3 separate regions of the Homo sapiens genome follow, and all the other regions are linked to region 3. The links come from fine-mapping of genetic effects on gene expression. A gene starts in region 3. Each other region holds a variant in brackets. All regions are shown on one strand. Distances are between the middles of the regions.

Region 1 (7,100 bases), 65 kb before region 3:
CAAGCAGACCTGGGTTCTAGTCCCCGCTCTGCACCTTCTTAACTGTGTGGCCTTGAGCAACACATTCTCTGAACCTCAGTTTTTTGAGCTGTGAAATGGGGATAATGACACCCACCTCAGAGTCTTGTTATGAGGCTCTGATGAGACAGTGTAACATATTTTACCAAATCTAAAGTGGCTACTGGCTGTAAGATATACTACGGTTTAATAAGCCACATGGACATTGCCATGAAGCCACAAGGCTGCCTAGGAGACACATCCCAAATTCAGAGAGGTGAAACTGTAAAATAACGCAAGCCTCAGAGCAGATGAACCATGGTGTGCCAAGCACTTAGTTGGCAGTCGATGTGAAATGCCATGGGTGTGCACTGTCCTTTGGTGCTGTGGGCTGCCATGCACATTTGCAGTCCCCATCTCTTCCCCTGGCCTGGGTGTGCAGGTGCTGAGGATGAGGGTGTGGGGCAGTGAGTAGAGGGGCTGCTGCTTTGGTGAACTGTGGTGGGGGAGAAGGGAGAAATATTTCCAATGTGCTTGGGGTAAATGTCCGAAGAGAACGTGCTCCTGGCTGCTGGGGGCTGGCCCTTGAGCACTGAGGGTAAAGCCAGCTTCAGAGCCAGCCCCACCTGGCTGTTACTGCTAGATCACTCACTTTCTTGCCTGAGCCTCAGTTTACCTATTATCCTATGAATGTGGAGATATGATCCAGGGCTGTCGTGCTGAACTGCTCCAGGGGTGCCATTCACTTGGGGGGCTTCAAGGTGTGGTTGTGAAGTTGCAATGAGACACCCTGGTCAAGTCTTTAACACAGGTGTGCACCACGGTAAGCACATAGCAAGCAGCGACAGCTGTGCATGACACTAACAGGCCCAGGGTGTGCTGGCCAGAGTTCTGAAGCTCTGGGGAGGCGGGTGGGGATATGGATTTGGGAATCGTCAGCACAAGATGGTAACTGACACCTTGGAGATGGAGGAGATACCTGGGGAGAGCATGGGAGGGGAAGCAGGCCCAGGTCAGGGCTCCAAGAAGACACAGCCTTTCAGCCAAGAAGTTAGGCCGGGGAGATGGAGCTGGAGAGACAGGGGAAGCAGGAGAGTGGCGTGAGGGGCCCCCAAGAGGAGCAGCAGGCAGCGGGATGAAAGAAACTGGGTGATCAAGGGAGAGGAGGATGACATGGACATTATACTCAGGAACAGCAATGTCCTTGGTGACCTTGAGGAGAGCAGTGTCAATGACATCTGGAGGCAGAAACCCTGCAGAGATTGAGGGGTGACTGGGGGGAGGAAGTGAGGACAACCCAAGTGGTCTGACTGTGGAGGGGTGGAGGGAAAAAGGAGGTCACTGGAGAAGTGTGTGGGAATGAGGAAAGGCCCAGAGAGAGGTGACAGACTCCTAGTTCCTGTCCTTGAGCACACATGGGTCTTCATGGTTGTACTTAGCATATGCTGGAGTAGAACACCTTATAGGCAAGGAAGAAGGGGCTGGAAGAAAAACAAAGACAGAGTTGGGCTGTGCAATGCCAGGTTCTTTGAGCTGTAGAAAGAGAAGGATCCAAGGCAAAGGGGAGAGGTGGATTTTCAGCAGGAGGAAGGATGGTGGCGCTCCCAAGATGCCCAGGGCGGGGCCAGATGCACACACAGGACACACAGGAAAGGAGCCTTAGTCTGGTTTGTGAATGGCCAGCTTGTTCCGGAAGGGCAAAGGTTTTGAGCTTCCCTGCACACAGGCAGGCTCAGGGCCAGGCAGGGTGATCAGGCCAGGTGCCCGCAGATGTGCCAGCCCCAGGGGAGCGAGCTAGCTGAGCTAGAGCCAGAATCCCGAACTCTCTGAGCTGTCTGCAATCAAATTCCTGTTATTTCCTGAGCATATTTTCCTTTTGTAATAGCTTAGATACCTAAGTCATGTTGATTGTTCCCACCTCCCTCTGTTGTTTTAATGGAGCCAAAGGAAGGTTCCTACCAGCTCAGATAATTAGTCAGAAATAATACATTCCCACGACGAGGAGGATGTCCTTCATTGAAAAGGAATGTGGCATAGAAAGAGAAGAAAAGGGAAACAAAGCTTTGGGGCTGGAAAGGCTGATTTGGGGCTGGAAGGAATCATAGTAAGATAGTTTAGAATGGTGGTCTCAACTGAGGGCGATTTCAGGGGACATTTGGCATGTCTGGAAACTTGGTAGCTGTAACTAAGGGGAGTTGCTATTGGCATCTACTGGGTAGAGGCCAGGGATGCTGCTCACATCCTACACAGCACAGGACGATCCCACCACAATTATCCAGTCCAAGATACCATAGTGCTGAGTTTGAGAAACCCTAGTTTAGAGGAAACAGAAACAAAATCAGAGCTATTTGGGTTTGTGAAAAAGAACAAAAATGTGATCAGAAACACATTTAAGATTGTCCAAAGATGAGCAGAATGAATAGTCAGTCTTAGAGGAAGTAAATAGGGAATTTAGAAAGATTCTAGGCTGAAACAAGGAGGGGACCTGCGCAGGGCGGAAACTGTGCCTCCTTCATCTCGGCAGCCTCCATGTTGCCCCACGTGCCACTGTCTGGTGTGCGGCAGATGCTCAGTGGATGTTTGTGTCTTCCTTTGGGTGAGTGTTACTGAACCCCTCCGAGTACATGCCTGGCTCTGAACAAATAGCGAGGCAGGAGACTGGGAGCCTCCAGTCCACCAGCAGGACAGAGACACGGAGGACCAACCTCAACTCCAGGACATTAACACTGCAGAGAAAGGGGAGTGCTGACCTCTGACCCAGACAGAGCAGGCAAGGCTGCTCAGTAGCAAGAACATTTGAGCTGGGCCCTGCCGGGTGAGTAGGAGTTTTCTGGGGGAGCCACAGAGTAGGGAGAGCAGCTCTGTGCCCTTGGGAAAGAGGAAGTAATTTGAATGAAAGCCAAGGTGTGTGGGCCTGGTGGAGGGAGATCCCTTAAGTTAGCAGAAGTGGCTTCACTGCTATCAAGTAACCACCGGGGCCACAGGGACCTGTCTCCATGCCTGTCTTGGGGACATAGATGCTTATCTAGGCGGAGACTTGTCCAGTCAGGATGTGTCCTAACGTAAGGCCAGAGATGTCAATCCTGAATGTCCTTGGGGCTGGAGGGGTCCTGAGCAGGTTGTCCAGCTCGGGGGGCCTGTGGGAAAGCAGCTGGGAGAGCAGAGTCAATTTGTGGTCACAAAGGAGAGTTCGGCCAGGCCTGGGCTGAAGGGCAGAGGTGGGCCTGGGTTTTCTTCCTGCAGGTGCACAGTCTGAGGACTCTCAGAGCTGCCTGAGAAATGCCCTCCCCCAAGCTACAGGGGGCACCTCAGCCCTCACCCACCTCAGGGTACGGGACTCAGCTGCCTTACTTGGGACAGCCTGGCACCCCTCACTGCCTGGAGCCACCAGGAGAAACAGACTGGGGAACCCTCCAGGAAAGGGATGGCAGGGCCCAGGCCTGTGGCTTCTGGGTTAGTCTGATGTGTGATCAGGCATCTGGGAAAGGCCTGGGCATCCTGGTGAGAAAACATTTTCAATGGTCCATTTTCAAGGCAGGATAAGTCTAAGTACTGGCATCCAACCTGCGAATGCAACAAACCACACGGCTCATGCACCTAGAAGGACACAATAAGCGAACAGAATGTAGAGGAGGGGTCAGCCCATGAAAGGGAAGAAAGTTTTGTTATTGGGAAATCGAA[A/T]CTTAAGTGGGGAAATCGAAGGGGAGCGGGGTATAACCTTGTAAGGGGGAAAATGAAACTTAGGCGACGTCAGGGAAGATTGTAACCCCATAGTGCTCAACCAATGGGGAAGTGGGGGAGGGACTTGCACACTAGGAGATAAATTCCTGTTGTGACTGCCCCAGGGGTGCCTGCCTACCAGACACTCCATCTTGCAAGACCGTTATTAAAAGTCTCACTTTCGCTGTTCTTCATGCCTCTAAGTCATTCTTTGGGTTTTGATGAGTGAGTGTATTTCTCTATTTCTCACATCCCTCCCCAGAGCTGATTATGATGGGGTCCCATCTGGAGCCTGGGAACCAAGGTGCCATATTTGTGATGGTGGCCAGAGCCCTGGGCTGGAAGCTGGGTGGGCAGCCTGGCCCCTGCTCTATCAGCAACACTCTCTGAGATTGTGGGCAAGGCCCTTCCATATGGAGGCCTCAGTATCCTCCTCTGTAAGATGGGGAGATTAAAGTAGAAGGTCTCTGAGGTCCCTCACCCTTGATGTGGCCTCAAATGGCTGGAAAGAATAGGAGTGGGTACCAAATGTTTTCTCTTTCACACCCTAAAATCAAGGCCAGTGCTCTGGAGAGAAGCCCGCAGAAGTTTAGGCAACCATGAAGGAGCCGAGCCAAGAGGGCAGAACCCCACTAGCACGCCAAGGGCGATGCTGGCACTGTGAGGTTGGACAAGGTCTGCCTTCAGAAGTCTCACTGTCCCCTTGTGTAAAAGGGAATTGATAGTGACAACTTTGGATGGTCCAGTTCAGAAGCATTTAGGAGCATGCCTGGCTGGTAGAAAGTGCTTACTAATGGTGCCAGTGCCACCATGGGTTGGAATGAGGCAGCCCTGTCCTTGGGCTCTGGCCTGGGAAACAGTGGGAACCAGGCCTCTTGGGGAGTGGGGTGGGGGGGGGTTCTTTCACAGGCACTGCTGGGGTCTGCCCAGGAGCACCCGGGTGGTGTACGCTTCAAAGACCAGTGTCGGCCTGTGCTCTAGACTGGGGGGTTCAGAGGATTCAGAAGATGTGGCTCTGTTTGTCAGTGTCCTGGGGGTTGTAACAGGGTGGATCACCCCTGCTGGTAGCCCTGTGTGCTCCTTGACTTCCAGCCACTCCTATTTCTCCTGGGGAGGGCTGGGGCCACCCTCCTGCCATATTTACAGAGGCTCCTTTCCCCACAGGGCCACTGACCTCGTTGTAATAGGGGCAGTTAGTGGACTCCTTCATGGATGTGTACTTCTTGTCGTCACCCACCTCCACGCACACCACAGGGTCCATGTTCAAGCCCACCAGCTGCCGGGCCTCGATCACCGTGATGCTGACCTGCAGGCAGGAGAAGGGGGAGCCAGAAGGAAAGCTGCCTGAGCCTAGGAGCCTGGTCCCGCAGGGGTCCAGGGGCTGGGGCAGCAGGGTCAGAGGGAGGGCCCGGGAGCCAGCACTGGCCTCCTGGGCTCCATTCTGACCACTGCCTCTCATCTGCTGGGTGATCCTGGCTCTTTCTCCTTCTATGCCTCAAGTGTCTTCATTTATAGAGGAGTATGAGTTGGCTAACCTCTAAGTCAGTGTTCACTAGACTTAACTTGCTGGGCCGAAGGGAGGGAGAGGCATTAAAAACACTGATGCCCAGGCCACCTCCAGACCAATCCAATCCAATCCTGGACATGCAGCTCAGGCATCTGTATTTTTATTTTTTTGATGGAGTCTTACTCTGTTGCCCAGGCTGGAGTGCAGTGGCATGATCTCGGCTCACTGCAACCCTCTGCCTCCTGGGTTCAAGTGATTCTTCTGCCTCAGCCTCCTGAGTAGCTGGGATTACAGGCATGCACTACCACACCGGGCTAATTTTTGTCTTTTTTATACAGATGGGGTTTTGCCATGTTGGCCAGGCTGTTCTCAAACTCCCGGCCTCAAGTGATCTGTCTGCCTCGGCCTCCCAAAGTGCTGGAATTACAGGCATGAGCCACCGTGCCCAGGCTGGAATCTGTATTTTTAAAGCTCCTAGGTGATGCCAAGTGCCCTGCGTTCTTCCCCAGCGTCGATGGCTCTGCTTCAGAAAGAGCTGCCAAACCCATGTCACAGGTTTCATGCACTCAGGAATAAAGCTTTCAAAGTCTTCATTAACTTGCATTTAATTTCCTGCTCCAGGAATTCTCATGTAAGCCTGCAGGCCTCTGATACGTCTTTGCATTTCTGGAATTTGGCTCCCCCCCCTTTCCACATTGTTTGCTGAATTTCTTTGTTTGTATGGCCAGTGCGGCTTTGGTGCCTGCCTGAGCCGCCTTTTTCAGCCTACTGATTGTATGTTGTGTGCACTCTGCTGTGTCCTTTATGTGGCGTCCAGCTCTGCAATCTTACTTATATCCTGGGAAGCCCTATTTCAGTTGTTCATTCATGCAACAAATGTTTCCTGGAAACCTGCTGGAGCCAGGCACAGGTGGGATTGCAACAAATTCTTCCTTGTGGAGCTTACCACAAATGATTAATGGCTTTTTTTTTTTTTTCACACTGAGTCTCTCTCTGTCACTCAGGCCTGGAGTGCAGTGGCATGATCTCAGCTCACTGCAGCCTCCACCTCCTGGGTTCAAGCGATTCTTCTGCCCCAGCCTCCCAAGTAGCTGGGATTACAAGCATATGCCACCCCGCCCGGCTAATTTTTGTATTTTTTTTTTAGTAGAGATTGGGTTTTACCATGTTGGCCAGGCTGGTCTTGAACTCCTGACCTCAGGTGATCTGCCTGCCTTGGCCTCCCAAAGTGCTGGGAATGCAGGCACGAGCCACTGTGACCAGCCAATTATTGGCTTTTTAAGCTAAAAAGATATAAGGACAGAGAGAGAGACAGAGAGAGAGAGAGCCAGAGCACCAGTAATTTTTGACATCACTACTACTTTTCCCGAACCCTCATTTTAAGCCATCAGGTCTCATTTGGATTTGGAGGTGTCAGTTCCTGTCAGGGTGGCCATGTTAAGATAGACAGAGGCATGTACTGGGGGTTGCTGAACTTGGGATTGAACCCCAGACCTGACATGTTGCCAGGTGTGAGGGCAAATGACCACATAGCCTTGTGTTTTTCAGTTACAAGCAGAGACACCAGCTACCTGTAAGGTTGTATGCAGGTTAAATGAGATCATGTGTGTCAAAATGCATCCTAAACAGCAGAAAGCTCTACAAAATGTGAGTGACCCCAACAGAATCTCCCTTCAGCTAAGCGGTTGATCTCTCAAGTAGGGAGCTTGTGCATGATACTTAGAATGATTGATTCACTTGCCTCTCTCAAACGTGTGTTTTAACAAGAAAAGCCTTTCCCCAGCTAGAATAAGCATGGACCTCTGTACATTCTTCTTTTTTTTTTTTTTTTTTTTTTTTTTTTTTTGAGACAGAGTCTCACTCTGTTGCCCCGGCT
Region 2 (5,620 bases), 81 kb before region 3:
CAAGTCTCAGGGCCCACCAAAGACTTGTTCAAGGCCAAGCAGTCAGTAAATGGCAGATGCCCGGCTCAGGACTAGACATGAGGTCCTCCTACCTCTAGTCCAGGGCTATCTGGGCACCTCAGCAGCTGAGGTGGTATGTGAGAAGGTGGCTCGCTAACTCTCGGGGGTCACCCCAATCCCTTACTCCCTGCTCCAGAACCTCCACGGAGGATGGCAAGGCTGTTACTGGTTGTGGTAGGTGAGGGCAGGGGTCGGGGAGCCCTGGGGTGGGGAGGCTAGTGACAGCAGGACTTGCTGGCACACCTCCAGGGCTCAGTCTGTAGGAGACAGGAGGTGAGGATGTGCTGGCCTGGGAAGGGGTCAGGCTGCCGCAAGCAGGCAGGAGGAGCTAGATGTCAGCCCCCACTCCCAGCTTCCCAGCCAGCACCTGGCCAAGGAGCTCTGCAGGTGGGTGGCGGAGGTGAGGGCACAGCCTCAGCGCAGGTGGAGTGCAGGGAACAAGGGCCAGGTGTGGTGCTGCTGGGGTCCCTGGCACCAGAGCCCACCCATACCATGGAATCCTGGTCATAGATTTCAATGACAATGATGGGCGGATCGTCCCTCAGCTCATGAGCTTCACCATAGAGCTCCAGGTTGTCGAACACCAGCATCTGGTCCCAGGTGGGACACAGGGTCTCATTCAGCACCTGCAGCATGGGATGGGGAGACAGGGGACAAGTGACAGAGGGGGGGGCAGATGCACAAACAGAAGCCACCCCTACTCACTCAGCTTCCACGGAACCTGGGGGCAGGAGTGACAGGTGTCTTGATTCTTCCAGAAATCTTAAAATCAAGGCTAATATGAGGTTTGGCCCAAGCCCCCTGCCAATGTCCTCCTTGTCGTCCCTGTCTTGTGAATATAACCACAGCTAAAGCCCGTAGCCTTTCCAGTGTGACCCGCGTCTGCTGCAGTTATCTGCAGGGCTTCCCCTGAGAAACCGGGGCACTGGCTGACCTGTGGCTCCAGGCCCCACAGGCTCACAGGCCCCACAGGCTCCAGTCCCCACAGGCTCACAGGCTTCTGGTGCTCTCAAAGCCAGAGCCACTCCCTCCTCCCAGGCCCTCACCTCTGTGCACTGACTCTGATTGATGAAGAAGACGCGGGCAAAGGGGTCTGAGAGTCCGCTGCTGTCGGCGGCAAAGAGGCTGCGGGCCTGGTACATGTGCGCTCGGAGCTGGAACGCCTGCTTCTCTGTGGGGAAGGGCAGCCTGAGGTTCCAGGATGGGCAGCCCCTCCGGCCCCCTCCCAGGTGAGGCTTCGAGTGAGGGGTCCTCACTCACTGGTGTAGACCAGGCTGACGGGTGGGAAGGCATGCAGGCCCAGGCCCTGGGCTGCCTTGACCTCCTGGAAGCCACAGGGCAGGCCGCACAGGAACTCCTTGCGCTGTTTGCTGAGGCCCAGCCACAGGTACAGCTCCACCTTGGCCTGCACTGTCCAGCCTGCCGAGCCGAAGCCCCGCTTCCCTGGCAGCTGGGGGTGGGCATGGGGTCACCAGGAGCCTGACGGCTGCCAGGGCCCAAGAGGTGGGGAAGGGGCAGGGGCCGGCAGAGGCCCTGGTCAGAGCTGCCCTGCCCCTTCACAGCCATCCCGCTGGGCTGGGGTCCGGTGGAGGCAGGAGGATGGGCAGGGGGCCGTCATGCCCCCTTCCCCACCCCTTCCCCCACCTCCTTCCCCACCCCTTCCCCCACCTCCTTCCCCACCCCTTCCCCCACCTCCTTCCCCACCCCTTCCCCCACCCCTTCCCTCACCCCTTCCCCCACCTCCTTCCCCACCCCTTCCCCCACCCCTTCCCCCACCTCCTTCCCCACCCCTTCCCCCACCCCTTCCCCCACCCCTTCCCCCACCTCCTTCCCCACCCCTTCCCCCACCCCTTCCCCCACCTCCTTCCCCACCCCTTCCCCCACGTCCTTCCCATTCTTGGCTCTTCTCTGAGCACCTGCTGCTTGAAGGCCCCACCCTGTCACTCAGGCTTCCAGCCCCAGGTGGGGGCTGCTGCTCCCCTGAAAGGACCCAGGCCCCCATCCATCCTGCCCCCTCCAGCACCTTAAGGAAGAGCGTCTTGACCTTGGCGCAGTCCTTGCCAGTCTCCTCCTCCACGATGGAGAAGAGCAGGTCCTTGGAGGGCACACGGGCATAGGCGACACGCTTGTTGTTGCTCATCATCCAGATGAAGATGTCGGGAATGCTGTGCTGGGGCTGGGGGTTGGGGGGTGGCCAGGGGCAGTGGGTAAGGGGGTCTAGCCTCCTGATTGAGCCCCCTGATCCTGAGGGGCCCCAGAGAGCCAGCCCTGGATGAGGCAAAGCCCCGACCCCTTGGGCCGCACCTCGTCCGCCAGGAAGCGCAGCTTCTGCAGGAAGTTCTGGCACAGCCTCAGCTTGTCCCGCACCGTGTGCCGCTTCACCTGGGCCCGCAGCATCCTGGCCTGCTGCCCCATGTTTTCCTGCGAAGGAGGGGGTGTCAGTGAACCCAGCAACTGGGGGACAGCTCGGGCCATGACAAAGGGGGTTGTGACACCTTCTCACAACCAGGCC[C/T]TCCCTCCAGCCCCCGCCGTCCAGTTGCGTCCTCACCAGCTCCCTCATGCAGGACTTGAGGCGCTCCCGGTCAAGCCTGGTGCGGGATGAGTGGCCCTGGTCCTTGTCAGCGAGGGAGAGGAAGCGGCTGGGGGTAGGGCGAGCCGGGGTTTAGCGAGCCTGACCAGCAGGGGCTCTGTAGATTCTTCCTCATCTGCCCAGCCCTGGCAGGGTCCCCTTTGTCCAGTTCCGCCTCATCCTCCCCCCACCTGCCGCCCCTCCCTTCTCACCAGCAGCCACAGCTCAGCTCCTCCAGGACGCCCCGCAGGCGACGCTCAGGGTAGGACTTCTCCGTTTTGATCATCTCCTGTATGTCGTTCAGGCCTTCTTCCTGTGAATCAGGAGTGTGGGTGATGCTGGGCCACAGCCCCGCCTCCCCAGCCTCCCCAAATGCCTCCTCCCTGTTGATCAGGGGAGTGAGGGACCTCATGATCTGGGAGCTCTCGCTAGGGCCATCCTGAGTATCGGTCATCATGAGGAAGTCATCAATTTCCCAGGTTCTGTTCTCAGAACCTGGAGATGTTGGTGTTCATGGGGGTTCTTCAGTTCCTGAAGGAAGAAGCCACCTCTGGGCTGTGAGTCTGTGGCTCTGGTGAGCTCACAGGGCCTGGGCAGAACTCACGGCTACGGGGCTCAGGGCTGGCCAGAGACAGAGGGAAACCCTAGGACTGGATGTGCCAAGATCCTGACGTCACTCCAGAATGCTGGAGCCTGTGGCAGGGGATGGGAACAGATGCCTGGGGGAAGAGGGAGTGGCTCTGGCTCTGAGAGCACTGGGAGGGCTGTGAGACCCAGGTCCCACAGGAAACACAGGTCAGCTTGTACCCCAGCTCCTTAGGGGGAAGCCTTGCAGATAACTGCAGACCCAGGTCACACTGCAAAGGCTATGGGCTTTAATTGTGGTTATAGTCACAAGACAGGGATGACAAGGAGGACATTGGCAGGGGGCTGGGAGCAGACCTCATATTAGCCTTGATTTTTTTGGAGGTTTTAATTCATTTTTATAAAATATGAGCTGGCTGAGCTTCAGGGAACTTCAACAGGGAACAGCAACAGCTCAGGGAAGGGCGGGATTATCTGCTGGTCCCTGCTTCCCCAGGCTGGGGAGAAGGAGGTCTCATGCCAACAGCTGCACTCCTCGCCCAGTCAGTGCCCATGGCTCATGGGGGGAGAGGGGTGGGCAGAGGAGGAGGGGGCAGCTCCTGAGCTTCAGACACTGCTCGCTTCTCCCTTTTCCCCATTTCCCTTCCCTAGCCTTGCTTTTTTATTTTGTTTTATTTTATTTTATTTTATTTTTTGAGATGAAGTTTTGCTCGGTTGCCCAGGCTGGAGTGCAGTGGCGCCATCTTGGCTCACTGCAAACTCCGCCTCACGGGTTCAAGCGATTCTCCTGCTTCAGCCTCCCGAATAGCTGGGATTACAGGTGCCCGCCACCAAGCCCCGCTAATTTTTGCATTTTTAGTAGAGACGGCATTTCACTATGTTGGCCAGGATGGTCTCGAACTCCTGACCTCAGGTGATCCACCTGCCTTGGCCTCCCAAAGTGTTGGGATTACAGGCGTGAGCCACCACACCTGTCTCCCTAGCCTTGCTTTTAAGATTTCTGGAAAAATCAGGGAACCCAACACTCCTGCCCCAGGATTCACTGGAGGCTGAGTGACTAGAGGTGGCTCCTGTCCTTGTCTGTGCCCTGGGACCTGGGGCTGAGAATGGGAACAGAGGTCCTGCTGGGGCCGTTCCTGCAGCCCCCTGGGCAGACCAGCTTTGTGTGTTCCAGGGAAGGCCCTCTGACAGCGCCGTCTCCCCCAGGACCCCACCCCTGCTGGCCCCTGGCCTGGCCCTGACCAGCTTGTCGGCAATGTGGTCCATGATGTTGGCATTGTAGAGGCGGCGGCGCTGGTCCGGCCACCAGCTCTTGATGTAGATGCAGGGCTTTCGCTCCAGGTAGGGCAGATGGAAGTAGTTCCTGGGGTGGGCAGAGGCGGGAGGTGAGGTCTTGGGGGCCCAGGGAGGTGGGAGGGCCAGGCCACAGGAGGATGGGAGGCTGGGCCCACCTGTCGGTGACCTGGGGCCGCATTGGTGGAGTGGAGGAGACTGAGGCCAGGTCCCCGGCATCACCGGCCTCGTCATCACTTGCGTTCTGAATCAGGTCTACTTCTTCCTCATCCCCCGGCTCCTTCCGGGGCCGAGGCCGCTGGGGCCGGGACAGGCCATCAACTTCGTTCCCATAGTTGCCTGGAGCAGAATGGGCCCAGAAGGCCTAGAGTGCATTCCCCACCAGGCCCCTCCCACCGTCCAATCCGGTGCTGCCTTGGGTTTGGGAAAGGGGAGAGGGAGAGTCAGGGAATGGGGCTCAGACGTGACACATCATTAGCCAGAGAGCATTAGCCCGTGTCCCCACTCCGCTGAGAGTCAGGGAGTCCTCATGACGCCTGAGTGCGAGGCCCAGCCCTGGCCCAGGCTGTGGCCTGAGTTCCCACTCTCTCCTCTCCAGCCCCGGGAAGGGCTTCTCCCTGCCCTCTGCCCCAGGTCCCAAACACAGCCTCACCCTGTAGGTGGAGCTGAGGGTTGGCCCCTTTATGGGGCGTGGTCCACCCCATGCACACACAAAGGTGTTTTGTGGGTGCTTGAGGCCTCTCAGGGGAAAGGGGTCAACGTTCCCTACAAGAGTGAGGACAGGGCTGAGGTGCAGAGCCTCACACTTACCACCTGCAGCCTAGGCCTGAAGCCCCCGTGGGCCCAGCACTCACCTAGGCCCGAAGCCCCCGTGGGCCCAGCACTCACCTATGGTGACCTCAAAGGTGATGGGCTTGTCTCCGTTTCTCCGGTCGATCATTGAGGCCTCCAGGAAGGCTCCAAAGAGAAAGAATTCTTCCATTTTACCTGCACAGCTCTGTGGGGAGGCAGTTCAAAGCGTTCCTGAGCTTGAGTAAGGGTGGCAGGTCGGGGGCCAGGCCTCCTTCCGTCTCACAGACAGGCCGTGGGGGTGGATGGTGGGGGCATCCCACC
Region 3 (7,100 bases):
CAGGGGATAGAAAGAGAAGGGAGACATCAGGGTTGGCCCTGGACTGTCTGTCACTTGGTTCCCTTACAGTCCAGGTCCCCCAGCCTTGGTGCTCAGCACTGGACAGAAGGTTGGACTAGAAGAACTTCGGGACCCTTCACACCCTGCGTTCTGTGGCTCTGTGATTGATGTAGGGAACTATCTCAGGAGTTGATAAAGGAAATACCTGAAGCTAATACTTCCTCTCTTTGAGTAGCAACCTGTGGTCAAGATGGCTCCTTCTTAGATAGCCCACTCTTGATTACTCCTGGGAACTGCAGGCCTCTGAGCTAAATGAGGACCACTGTCTCCATTTTGTTAATGAGAAACCCAGCTGAGCCCTGTGGCCTGCAGGCACAATAGAGATTCGCCCAGGACTCCCTATCTCCTGTCTGACCCAATGGGATTGTGACTCCTGGAGGGCCAGGCTGGCCCCTTCACCTCAGGGTCCCAGGCCTGTGCACAAATATTAGCATGTTCAGGAAATGCATGAACAGGGCAGCACCAGCTTAGGAGCAGCCAGGGGCAGTAAGAACTAAGAGCTAGATACAGAACTGGCTGGGAGCACTGACCGAGGGGCCGACTGGCCTGAGGGCAGTGGGAAAAGAGGTGGCCACGGGCAAAGCTGGTGCACACCCAGCCAGATGAGAACAGGAGTCTCGGGGGTCTGCCTGCCTGGGTTCCTGCGGAACATCTCAGCAGAGGCTCCTACAGAGCAGAGTCCAGGCTCTCTGCCTTCTCCTGGCAGACTGGAACCCCTTAGACGTGCTCTCCTCTTCCCTTTATATCTCACATGGGGCCCTCTGCTGGTCTGGAGAGAAGATACCTCAGGGGCCAGCAGCTGCTCCCAAGGAGAATGGGAATGGCTGCCTCACAAACACATCGACCATTTGAATACTCTTCCCACAAACTCTTCCATACCTATGGTTTCCCTGAAGCAATCTAGTGAAGTGAGTGTTATTATCATGCCCATTTTACAGATGAGGAAACTGAGGGTGAGTGGCAGAACCCAGGTAGGATCTAGGGCTTCTGACTCCATATCCAGAACTTTTTCCACAATAGCCCAGGAGGGCTCTTTCCTTAGTGTCTTGGATGGCACAGCACAGAAGGTCAAGCCATATTTCAACCAGCTGCTCTGGCCTACCTAGGGCCACTGCCAATGGGCACAGCTCACCAAGGGCTCCCTCACCACCTCCCCCGGCATTGACTTTCACTCAAAAGCCTTGGGGAGCCTGGGGCCAGTGTCTCCCTCTGCGTGTTTACCAGTTTCTTGTTTCCCCCTGCAGAGGACTTGCTTGGCCCCCAGTGGTTGCATGTGCTGGGAGATGCTAAGGAACATTGTAGAGCGGGTCCATTCCCTCTGAATTGTGGTCAGTGTTGGTCTTTTGGGGCGCCTACAACTGTGAACTGCTAGATGACACAGGTGAGCGGCTGAGGCATCTTTCGTTGTAATAAAGGTACTTTCTGGAAACTGCTTGTCATCTGCCTATTCCTGCTGCCCAGCCCCCTTCCCCAGGAGCTCTGCCCATGGCCACCTCCTGCCAATGTGGAGCTTGGAAGCGATTTCTCCACTCAGTCCAGAGAGCAAGGGTTGCAAATAAACTAATTCCTGTGTGGTCAGTGAGGCTAAAGGCCCAGCCCTTCACTGCTCCAAGGAGAAGATGGGTGTCAGACAAGGTGCTGGCCCCCAGGTGGCCCAGGAGCAGATAAAGAGCTTGCAAGATTGAGTACTCAGGATGAGGTCCTGAGAGCTGGGACCACCGTGCCTCAGCTCCTCCGTGAATGCCACGCGCAGTGTTCTACCCCTGAACCTTGGTTTCTCGGCCTGCAAGTGGGCCTGTCCGGTGCAGCCTGGACCGTTCCAGCACAGCTGCAGCAGGATGGCAACCTGTAGCTTAACCGCCCCACACTATGCTGCCCGTGGAGCTCAGGGCCACATTTCACAGATGAAAGGACACATTTGCTTTTTCTAAAGCCAGCATGAGCCTGCAGGTGGCACACAGAGGGAGATCCAGGGTGCTGCAGAGAAAGCAGTCAGTGGGTTGGGGTGGGAGGCAAAAGGCAGCCCAGCCCACACCTCCCTCTCCCTCCTGCCTAACCTCCGCCTGCCGGCAGGGCCACTGCCATCACCTCCACCCCTGCCTGTCCCTATGAACACAAGCTGCAATGTGGGCATCCCAGGGCCTCTGGGTAGGTGATGTGGGTGCCCCAGGGCTCTTGCTGGAATGTTCTGCCAATGGTCTCTCCCATCCCTTCCAACAGAGGTGCAGACACTGTGTCCAGCCTGGGCCCCAAGGCTCACTTTGCTCTTTAGTATAGGGGGGTCCTCTCTGCCCCCTTCTCACCACCTCGTCCCCATCCCACTCTCAGACCCCTCTCTCGGGAGAAGGGGCCATGTCTAGTGAGAAGTACCCCCAACCCTCAGGGCTGGGCAGCAACCACATGGAGAGGCAGAGGTGGGTGGTGAAGGACAGAGTCAGCCTGGCCCTGCCTTTCCCCACTTAAAATGCTCAGGGGCTCCGCTGTCCCCGGGGTCAGGTCCAGCCTCGCCTCCTTGCCCTGCTTGGCTCTCTGGCCTCCGCTCCTGCACCCTCTCTGAGCTGTAGACACATGGAACCTCTTTCAGTTCCAGAGTTTCAGCTCCTCTCTCAGCTCTGGGCACACTGTTTCCTCTGCCTCCTCAGTCCTTACCTCCTCTCCTAGCTCCCACCCGCTGGTCCTTCGGGTATTAGCTGAGTGTTACTTCCTCCGGGAAGCCTTCCCTGACCACCGGTCACCAGCCTGGGTGAGGGTGCTGCTTCTGTAGCTTGCATGCTGCACCCCCACCTTCTGTCTCACATACCTGTCCTGCTTGTTCCACGCCTGCCCAACAGATGCAGGCTCCTTGGGGCTGGGGCTGGGTTGTGCTCAGCTCTGTGTTTCTACCCCTATCCTTGGGACACAGTAGATCATAATAAATGGTCGCTGAATACAGGAGTGAAAAGGATGAGAAAAGACCAGACAGAAGAGAGGCGAGGGGCTCCCGGGGTTCCCGCCCATGAATAGATCTAAAAGAAGCCAACAGTGTCCCCCATCACTCTGGGGCCCAGGGAGCTACTGGCTGCCTGGTTTCTCCCAGTCACCCTGGGTGCCCCAGGCTCCATACCCGGCCCCCACCCTGTGCTCAAGGAAATCAACCTGCAGGAGAGGGAGAGAGAGAGAAGGAGGGGGTCCTGGGTCTCCCTGAGCTCAGGGATGTGGTCCTCACTTCTGCCTCCCCAGGCAGAGGGCTCTGTGCCCTGCCCGGGGAACTGGCATGTTGGCAAGCACAAGGAGACACAGGCATGGAAGAACAGGGGACCCTGATTTTCCAGAAATCACAATGGCCAGTCAGTCCCAGGCAGATGACTACCTGTGAAAAGGCTCGTCGCCCCAGCCCCTGCTAGAACTTTTCCCACCCATCCTCCCAGCCCTGTCCTATCCCCGGCCACCTCCAGAGCATGGGCTGGTCCAGCTCTCAGAGCTGGCGTCCCTCTGAGACAGCGGCTTCCCTACCTCGGAAAGTCACTTTGGCGATCCGGTCGCCCCTGCCCCGCAGCTCCGAGACTGTCTTGAGGTGGATGAGCAAGGCCATGCTGGTGTGGGCTGCCTGGCACTGCCAGGCAGGAGCAGCGGGAAGGAGCTAGCCGGTGGAGCACGGCTCACACGCCTCTCTCTTCTCTGCCGCTGCCTCCTCCTCCTCCTCCCGACCCCCCTCCGATGCTGCCCACAGAGACCAAGGCAACCAAGCCGAGCTAAGCTGCTCCTGCAGCGACTCACAGAGCCTCACAGCCCCCGCCCCTCCAAGTTGTCAGCCCAGCGTGTGTGTATCGGTGTGTGCGTGTGTGTGTGTGTGTGTGTGCACCCAATGTGCAGCCTGGGAGTGCGGCAGAGTTGGAATTCATTATTCAGCAGCCGCCGGCTCCCAGATAAAGCTCTGTCCAGCTTCAGGTGTCTTCTCCCAGCTCCTGGAAGGGAGGCTCTGCCCACCCCTCTGCAGGGCTCTGCTGCTTCCCTGCTAAGCAAGCCCTGCCACCAGTAGTGGGCACAGAGGAGTGGGCATGAGCATAGGTAGGGTGGATGTGGGGCGGGGGGCACTCCCACCCACAGGGGCACACTACAAGAAGAAGGGAATGTATTTGTCCACCTACGCCCACCTCTTCCCTGCTGGAGACTGTGCCCCCAAGAGGCTGGGCCCTGAGCCCTGCCCTGGGATCCCTGTTTCTGAATCTCAGGAAGCAGAGAGGCTGGGGCTGCTGCCTGAGGGGAGGCTCAGGACCAGGCCATGCATGATGGAGATGGCTGGTTGTGGAGGCAGCAGAGGCTTATGTGCTACCAGGGGCCATGTTTAAGGATCCAGGGCACTAACCTAGCCCCACCCCAAGGCTGGGGGTCAGGCAGGCTAGCGAAGGTAAGCCAGGCTGATGTTTGCTTTCCAGCCAGAGGAGCAGAATTGAATGGCCTTCTGCTGTTATAAGCTGCTAGGGGCAGGAGAAGGGATGTCTATAGGGAAATTTCTAAGGACCAAAAGAGAACTGCCCCCTCCTGTCTTCCAGCAGCATACACCAAGGAAAGGGACGCTGGGGGCCAGAATCCCTGATGCTGGAATCTGTGCAGGGTCATCTGCAGCCTTGTTCTTGCTATTCATTCTTGGTGGAATGCCCTCCACCCCACCCTGGACTCAGCTTGAGTGCCTGCTCCTGGAGGTGCCTCTGTACCCGCACCCCAGCTGGGTTGGGGTCCTCCTCTGTGCTGCTCCTGCCTCCTCTCATCTTACTGAGTCCTGGGGCTGCTTCCCTTGCCTTTTCCCCTCCTGACCTCAGGAGGGCCCTGGAGCACAGCATCCCTCTACCCCAGAGCCCCACATGGTATCCTGTGCACCGTAGGATGCCCAATTACTGTTGAAAGGATAAAAGAGTGAGCTCAGGGATCTACCTGAAACAGAGTCTAAAGGTTAAAAAGAGAAATACTAATTTTTCACAGCATGGTAACAAGAGGTTACTTCTTTTGAATTCTGCATTCCAAATAACCTACAGTATGTCCCAAGAGCCTTCTTTCCTCCTTCTAGATATTTCCTTGCTACTGTGCCCTATTTTTCTTTTTCTACTTACGTTTTTTTCCTTTGCACTTTTTCCTAACCAATTCTTGCTTACCTTTCTCACATTTATCTAATCATATTGAATTTAAAAATGTCTTAGAGTATTCTGTTTATTGAATACAAGTATGAATGCTAAATTTTCAAAAGCTAGATAAGTTTAATGTCTTAAAAAAAAAAACACCTAAATTCACTAGCATTTTCCATCCATGAGGTCATCAGGTGATCTGTGTTTTTAAGGCTTGGTGACTACAAGGTACAACAACAACAACAGAAAATATCTTCTTCCTTGGTTCTCTGGAGGTCCTCCCCTGAAAGGAGTGAATTTCATGAGGCCTCTTATAGACCCTGTGCATCTTTAGGAAAAAGCCCATGATCCTGCCCTAGCCAAGGCATTGATCTATGCTGAATCTCACTTTCCACATCCATAAAATGGTAGCAATTCCACTCAGCAGCTCTCAATGGAGTCAGCTGGCCTTTCTGAAAACCTAAGAGACAGATCCCACTCTTTTTTTTTTTTTTTTTTTGAGAGAGAGTCTCACTCTGTCACCCAGGCTGGAGGGCAGTGGAGTGATCTAGGCTCACTGCAACCTCTGCCTCCCGGGTTCAAGCGATTCTCCTGCCTCAGCCTCCCAAATAGGTCAGACTATAAGCATGTGCTACCATGCCCAGCTAATGTTTGTATTTTTAGTAGAGATGGGGTTTCACCATGTTGGCTAGGCTGGTCTCAAACTGCTGACCTCAAGTGATCCGCCTGCCTCGGCCTTCCAAAATGCTGGGATTACAGGCATGAGCCACCGTTCCCAGCCAGAACCCACTTTTTAATTTCCATTCTTCTGTTACCCATTTTGGTAACTGAGTATATAATTTATGTAATGAACATTTACTGAATTCTTTCCAGAGCCAGGTGCTGAGATTCAGGGATGAATATGATATGGATGGCACAGGATCCCAATCAGACGAGACAGATGGACTAGAACACAGGCAGGTGGAAGGCAGGGTGGTGGGTTTACCAGCAGGACTGGCTGGGCAGCCCTGAATGGGGGAGGAAGTAGGCGGTCAACCTCACCAGGGCTGGGGGTCTTTGACTCATGTTTTCCTTATTGTAGAACATGTTCCCCAATGAGAATTTAGAAAAATACAGACATGACTGCATTCTGAAGGATGGATGGATTTTCCTTCCACCCAGTTTGTTTGCAGCCGTTCCTTTGCCTACAGCTCTCTTTCCAACCAGGCCTCAGTGTTTCTGCTTCCTGAGCCTCTGGGAAGCCTGTGGCTCCCCTTCATTTCATTGGCATTTGCCAGGGGAAGTCTTTGGAGAATGCTGGTGGCAGCCACATTCTGTGAACCCAGTAGCGTCTGCGGTCTTCATCCACTGCCATTTACAGAACCGAAGTGCGAGGGGAGCACTGCTCTCCATCCGGCATCTGAAGGGAAGAAGCAAGACCTGGAGACAAAGTGGGAACTGCCAGGCTTCTTCATGACACCAGGACTGCTGCAGAGGGAGCTGGGGTGGCAGGGCCTCCACCCGAGTCACCAAGAGCCTGGCACCGTGGAAGCTGTCCCCATACCCTCACCCCTTATGGAAAAGCCGAAGGCCCTGTGCCTGCCCTAGGCACCAAGGCTGGTGTAAGGGTCCCTGGAGAAACTCAAATGTGGAGGCTGAAGCAGTCACAGGGAGGATTACACAGGGGGTGGGCCTTCAGCAGGCCTGCTCTCTGGGGCAAGCGCTACCCCTGCGGATGCCATCCCCAAAATGAACGGCAGCATTGGGGACAAATGTAAATCACACACCCAGACGTTCTATGATTTTCTTTTTGCCTCTTGTGGAGTAGTTTACAGGTATGATGAGGTGAGAAGGAAGCCATCAGCTAGAGATTAAGAAGAAAAATGAAAAATGCTCCTCTTCGCAAGGCGCGCACACACACACGCACACATGCACGCACGCACGCACACACACAATTACACA

What was found.
Region 1: its variant is fine-mapped to the expression of OTOF in whole blood (TOPMed, PIP above 0.99). The same link has a PIP of 0.9 or more in blood mononuclear cells, lung, monocytes and monocytes after R848.
Region 2: its variant is fine-mapped to the expression of OTOF in whole blood (TOPMed, PIP above 0.99). The same link has a PIP of 0.9 or more in T cells and blood mononuclear cells.

What each region holds. Positions count from the first base shown.
Region 1 is chr2:26,490,051-26,497,150 of GRCh38, forward strand. OTOF (otoferlin) reads right to left here. Exons shown (of 47, transcript NM_194248.3): 9 at 4,892-5,023. Among named protein-coding and RNA genes, the nearest start is that of OTOF, 65 kb to the right of the region's middle. RefSeq lists an enhancer at 3,596-3,745. The variant A/T (reference allele first, on the strand shown) is at 3,679.
Region 2 is chr2:26,474,808-26,480,427 of GRCh38, forward strand. OTOF (otoferlin) reads right to left here. Exons shown (of 47, transcript NM_194248.3): 16 at 5,396-5,504; 17 at 4,666-4,846; 18 at 4,457-4,577; 19 at 2,842-2,942; 20 at 2,609-2,699; 21 at 2,365-2,481; 22 at 2,084-2,236; 23 at 1,321-1,510; 24 at 1,107-1,231; 25 at 552-686. Among named protein-coding and RNA genes, the nearest start is that of DRC1, 76 kb to the left of the region's middle. RefSeq lists an enhancer at 2,752-2,941. The variant C/T (reference allele first, on the strand shown) is at 2,573.
Region 3 is chr2:26,554,941-26,562,040 of GRCh38, forward strand. It overlaps OTOF (otoferlin), which reads right to left and starts at 3,816. Exons shown (of 47, transcript NM_194248.3): 1 at 3,553-3,816. The coding sequence starts at 3,631. RefSeq lists enhancers at 3,177-3,970, 3,971-4,763.